Regions from separate parts of the Homo sapiens genome. Here region 1 is linked to region 2. Evidence: fine-mapped expression QTL. A gene starts in region 2. The other region holds a variant in brackets. All regions are shown on one strand. Distances are from middle to middle. Region 1 has its middle 13 kb from the start of IL17B. Region 2 holds the start of PCYOX1L (prenylcysteine oxidase 1 like).

Region 1 (2,914 bases), 34 kb before region 2:
ATTCAGGTCTTAAACACTGAAGTTCTAGGCTTCACACTGAACTAGGCCTGGGGCTCTAGAGATGAAGACCAAGTCCTTGCTTTCAGGGAACGTCCACCCTCTGTTGGGGAAGGCAGGTAGGTAAAGAGCCAATTGCTAATTTGTACGGAGCCACAGGGATGCATAGGGCACACTGAAAGCTCATTTCCTACTGAGGGATCTGGGAAGCTTCTTGGAAGCGTGCACTGCGACCTGAAGAGTAAAAACGGCAGAGAAGGGCATTGAAGCAAAGGGAACAGCATAAGTCAAAGCCCAGAGGCTGGATTCAGAGCCACTCAGAGGATGACTTTCTGGGTGACATTGGGTGGGTGATTGGGCCTCAGTTTTTCTATTTGTACAATAAACGGGTTAGGTAACTTGCTGCTGAGGAAGGAAAGGGGAAAACAATCTCACACACGCAGACACACATGCGCACACACACGCACACACACGCCCACACACACGCAGACATGCACACACGCAGCACACACACGCACACACACACGCACGCGCGCACACACACGCACACACGCACGCACACACGCACGTACACACACATGCACACACACGTACACAGATGCAGAGACTGTGGTTGTTTCAGCCTTAGAGGGTAAGACATGACTCACTTCTAGATGACGTTATTGACTCAAAGGTAAGGCCTCTTGGGCCCAGCCTCCAGAGGGAGAGAAAGAGAGAGAATGAAATGATCCACAGCATACAGTAACAGCAATTTATGTTTTCATTTAAAAATAGTATTTATTGTTTGAATAGATAATATCTATACATTGTCACCATCACAGAGGTACAAAGGGTGTTCTGTGAAGAGTAACTTCCCTTCTAACCCCACTCCCTTATCAACCCATTCCCCTCCCCAGAGAAAATCACTCTAAATTTTTATATAGACTTCCAGAGAGTCTATGCAAATGCAAGCACATACACTTACAAGTATACATATGTACAGTCCCTGCATTTTTGGGGTACAGATTGGGGTGTACTATTCACATTCTTATGCACCTTACTTCATTTACTTAATAACAGCTATTGGCTATTGGAGTGTATCATTCTACAGCGGGCTGCCTCATTCTTTGAATGGTTGGATAGGGTTCCACTGCACGGAAGTGCCATAAGTCATGCAACCCATCCTATAAGGATGAGCACTTTGAGGATGCTATTGTACTAACAGATTCCTTTAACACAAATACAAGATAGAAATTAGAAAAGATAGAAGTAAAAGTCCTTTGTGATTACAAACAATGCTGCAAAGCCTGTCCTGGTCTTTGTGTCATTTCCACATGGGGCTGCCTCTGTTGGACAAAGGCGTAGAAGAGCGATTGTTGGATCAAAGTCCTTGTGCATTTGTGATTCTCATAGATATTACTCTATCCCGTTACCCACCTCCCTCATGGAGGTTGTAACCATTGTGTACTCCCACTTGCAATGTACAAGAGGCCTGTGTCACAGAAATTTTGAGTTTCTCCAGGCAGCCTGGGAGAGAGAGTAAGGGGATGAGAAGCTGGGGAAGAGGGCAGGGCATGGGGAGAAAGGAGGACATCCTTTGAAGGAGGAGGCCTGGGAACTGTAGGAGGCTGAGGACTAATGTGAGACAAGGCCGATGAGAAGTTCCTGGGGTCA[C/T]GACAGTGACCTTTAGGCTTGCAGAGCTTATAGCCAATGGTGAAGTCATGCACACCAGTCAGTCACCCTCCTCTATTGCACACCGGCCAGTCGCCGTCCTCCATTGCACACAGTTCAATCACCCTCCTCCACTGACAGCTCAGTGACGGGCCTGCCATGCTTCCAGAATTGCATTCCCAGGAATGACACTTGAGAGATGAAGGAGAGGTGCTTAGGGGGCCCAGTGGTTGGAGGAATGGGTAGTAGCCTCAGAGACAGGAGCCCAAATCAGGAGCCAGCACTGTGAAACAGCAGGCTGTGCCAAGGACTAATTTAGGAGAAACTTAAGCCCCCTAAAACTCTAAAATTGGGAAGAATTCCCTGCATTCTCTGATTGTGTGGGTTGGGAACTGAAGCCATTTTATCCTGGTGTTAAAGGAAAGAGACTTTGTGCCTGGGGCAGGCAGTCACTTGGTGACACCCCCGTGGCTGAGGTTCTCCATGCCTCTAAGCCTGGGTGTCTTTCTCCCTGCTCTTCCCAGTCCCGACAGGCTGGGACCATCCCACCCAGAGTTAAGAGGCTTTGTGTTCAAAATCCTGGTCCAACGCTGGGCGCAGTGGCTCACGTCTGTAATCCCAGCAGTTTGGGAGGCCAAGACGAGCAGATCACCTGAGGTCAGGAGTTCAAGACCAGTCTGGCCAACATGGTAAAATCCCATCTCTACAAAAATACAAAAATTAGCTGGGGATGATGGCAGGTGCCTGTAATCCCAGCTACTCAGGAGGCTGAGGTGGGAGGCTTGAACCTGGGAGGTGGAGATTGCAGTGAGCTGAGATAGCGCCATTGTACTCCAGCCTGGGTGACAGAATCAGGTTCTCTCAAAACAAAACAAAACACAAAGGAAAAACTCCCCACAAAAAACCAAAATCCTGGTCCAGGGGTCCCAACCCTTTTTGACCATAAACTCCTAACAATAAATAACAGTTTATTAAAAAAATTTTAATTTAAAGTTATTTTTAAAAATAAATATTTATTTATAAATTCTATAAAGAGCTATTATACTAATATGTTCCTTTAACACAAATAAAAAATAGAAATGAGAAAAGACAGAGGTAAAAATAGAAGACCTGATAGTCTTCCTAAGCCTCAAATGACACCCTACTTTGGAAATCACTTACCTAGCTTTAAGCGTTTTCAGAGCTGGGTTGGCGAAGGGACTTGGAGGGCCTTGTGTATCTCTGTGTGTGTGTGTGTGTGTGTGTGTGTGTGTGTGTGTGTGTGTGC
Region 2 (2,914 bases):
CCCAATGGTGAGAAATGTCCTGTCCTGTTGCCTGTTCCTAAGAAAACGGGGAGTGCCCTGCATATTCCCACAGCACACTCTGCTTACTCCTAGCCACACTGTATTCAAACGATCTAAGGACAGAGAGAGAACACATGGTCACTCATGGATACTGCCTGCCTAACTCTTCCACATCCTTCAATGCCTGGCTCAAACTCCACCTTCTCCATGAGGGCTTCTCTGGCTACTCTAGCCTCAGGATTCTCTTTTCTTGGCAAGCACTAAACTCTCAGTCTCAAACTGGTTTCTGGCATGCTTCAGTCTTCTTAACCCTGTATGGCCTGGGCTGTGGTTCTGCTACACAAGAAGCTTTAGCACTGCACTGGACCCTGTAAGTTTGTGATGCTTCTATCAGATGTTCCAGGCACTCCTGCCAACTGGGGTGCATGGAGAGTGGCCTAGCGGAATAGAGTCTTTGTCCTCCCACCCCGAAGCCCAGGATCTCTGCCTGTGGGAATATCACGTGTGAGGGACTTGAAAATCTTCACGAGTCATGTAGTTAAAATGACAGTTGTTGAGGGAGGAAAAAAAAAAGCAACTGTAAACACATATGACACTCTAGTCAATGATATGCACGATGACGTATTTAGTGAGGTGTCCTGATGTCTGCAATTTATTTGGAGATGCATCAAAATGTAGGCTGGATTCGTGGATGTCTAGAACAGTGCGTGATAGTTATGTGACACAGCAAGTATAGCAGCAGTTAATGGCAGAATGTAGGTGGTGGGTATACAGATGACCACTATAAAATTCTTGCTGTACATCTGAACATTTTCAAAATAAAGTATTGGGGAAACCACACACACAATAAACAAAAAGACTGTTGTTAAAAGTTCCCCGTTCTGTCAGCAAATCTCCAGCGGACCTAGTGTTCTGTCTCTGCCAGGACTGTCTCCTATCGACCTGGGGGTGGTTTGGCTTAGATGTTACTTCCAGGAAGCCCTCCCAGGGCCGCAAAGACAGGGTGAAGCGCCCCTCCTCTGCATGCACCGTACTTCCTCAGCTCAGCACGGACTTCCCTGTACTGTGAGGGCTCTACCCCAGCAGGAACTACAGCACCACGTCTGCTACACAGAGAGCCCTCAACCAACCTCTGTGAATGCCATCGCCCAGCCTCTCTGTCCTCTGTCACCCGGGCGCCTAGCCAACAGCCAGGACCATGGCAGATGCTCAGCGACCCTGGACCTCCCGGTGAGATCCGCGGCCAGTCCTGCCCAGGCCTCTTTTCCGTCCTAGGTGGCCCTCTTCACATGCCATGCCCCGGCCCCATCAGGACCTTCCCTGCCGCGTCCCCTTCGGCGCCTCTCCTCCACCCAGCTCCTTTTCCGAGGACCCCTCCCTCACCCAGCCGCCCTCCTATACCCCACCTAGCTGAGAACTGAGAACCCTTTACCCGCCGGCCCTCCCCAGCTGGGAACCCCACCGCGTCCTTCCCGCACCGATTTTGCCCGGCGGGGCATCTCCGCCAGCAGCGGCGGCGGCGAGGAGCGCGGTCAACGCGGCGAGCAGCGGGGCTGCGCGGGCCATGGCGGGCGGCGAGCGGGCAGCACGCCGGATTCAGGCGCTAGCGGGTTGGCGCTCGGCTCTCCGCCCCGCCCCGGCGCCCCACTGGCAGTCCCGCCTTCCTGCCGCGCCAGACCCAGCTCCGCATTGGCCAAGCCGCCGTCCCTCTCCAGCACGAGGCCCTCATTAGCTCCATCTCTCTCGGGGTAGGCTCTCTCATTGGCAGCTTCCCCGTTCCGCCCCGCCCCCCGCATGCGGGCTCCTCATTGGCTGGGTTCATTCTTGCCCGGCGCAGGTGTGCCCGCTTCGGGTCCTCAGCATCAGGACCAGGGCCCAGCTGCGGCAGAGGGATGAAACAGACCAAAGTGAAGCTTTGAAGACCTCGGTTATGTCCAGCCTCTGCGTTATTAGCTCTGTATCTTCTCTGTGTCTGTTTCCTCTATTATAACACAGACGAAGAATCCTGCTCCACCTTTCTAGGTGGTTGTAACCATCTTATGAGATAAGGGAAGCCTTTTGCAGTGTCTGCAAGTGCTGGAAATTGCTGACCAAGCATGCGGCCAGGGTGGTAAGACGCTACCTCATTCATATGCTGACACAAGCCCTATGCTTTCTATACTGCTGTTATTTATGTGTTTGCAGTTTTTATATAGTTAATATCTCTGCTTTCTGCTTCCTAAAAACCAAAAGGCGGGGGAAGGTTTCATCTACTCTCTTTTCAGAAAGGAGAAAAGGAGGGATAAACTCCCATTTTCATCCTCTAAGAAGACAAGAGCAGCAGCTCAGACTTGCTAGTTTATCACGCTGTGAAAAACAGACTTCCTCTGGCAGAAAATAAAGTTAGGGATGAGTTTCAGAATAAAGAAAATCCGGAGGCTGGGGGTGGCTCAAGCCTGTAATCCCAGCATTTTGGAAGGTCAGGCGGGAGGATCGCTTAGGCCAGCAGTTTGAGACCAGCCTGGGCAACATAATGAGACTCTGAGACCCCGTCTCTTAAAAAAAAAAAATTCGCCAGGAGTGGTGGTGCACACCTGTAGTCCTAGCTATTCAGGAGGCAGAGGTGGGAGGCTTGAGACCGGTAGTTTGAGGTTACAGTGTTCTATGATTGTGCCACTGCACTCCAGCCTGAGTGACAAGAGTCCCTGTCTTTAAAAATAAATAAATATATAAAAATAAATGAAATCCATATTTACTCAGTGAGATTATGGCTAAAATAAGAAACTGGGCCGGGCACAGTGGCTCATGCCTGTAATCCCAGCAGTTTGGGAGGCCGAGGTGGGCAGATCACTTGAGGTCAGGAGTTCGAGACCAGCTCGGCCATCATGGTGAAACCTCATCTCTGCTAAAATGCAAAAATTAGCTGGGCTTGGTG

The links. PIP is the estimated chance that this variant, and not a neighbour inherited with it, causes the effect.
Region 1: its variant is the best candidate, but not a certain one, in a credible set for the expression of PCYOX1L in stomach (GTEx, PIP 0.67).

What each region holds. Positions count from the first base shown.
Region 1 is chr5:149,390,587-149,393,500 of GRCh38, reverse strand. It overlaps a transcript of IL17B not described here. Among named protein-coding and RNA genes, the nearest start is that of IL17B, 13 kb to the right of the region's middle. The variant C/T (reference allele first, on the strand shown) is at 1,651.
Region 2 is chr5:149,356,721-149,359,634 of GRCh38, reverse strand. PCYOX1L (prenylcysteine oxidase 1 like) reads right to left here and starts at 1,589. Exons shown (of 6, transcript NM_024028.4): 1 at 1,479-1,589. The coding sequence starts at 1,566. GRPEL2-AS1 (GRPEL2 antisense RNA 1) reads left to right here and starts at 1,993. Exons shown (of 2, transcript NR_132366.1): 1 at 1,993-2,110. RefSeq lists silencers at 1,350-1,559, 1,580-1,739, 1,760-1,809 and an enhancer at 1,535-1,829.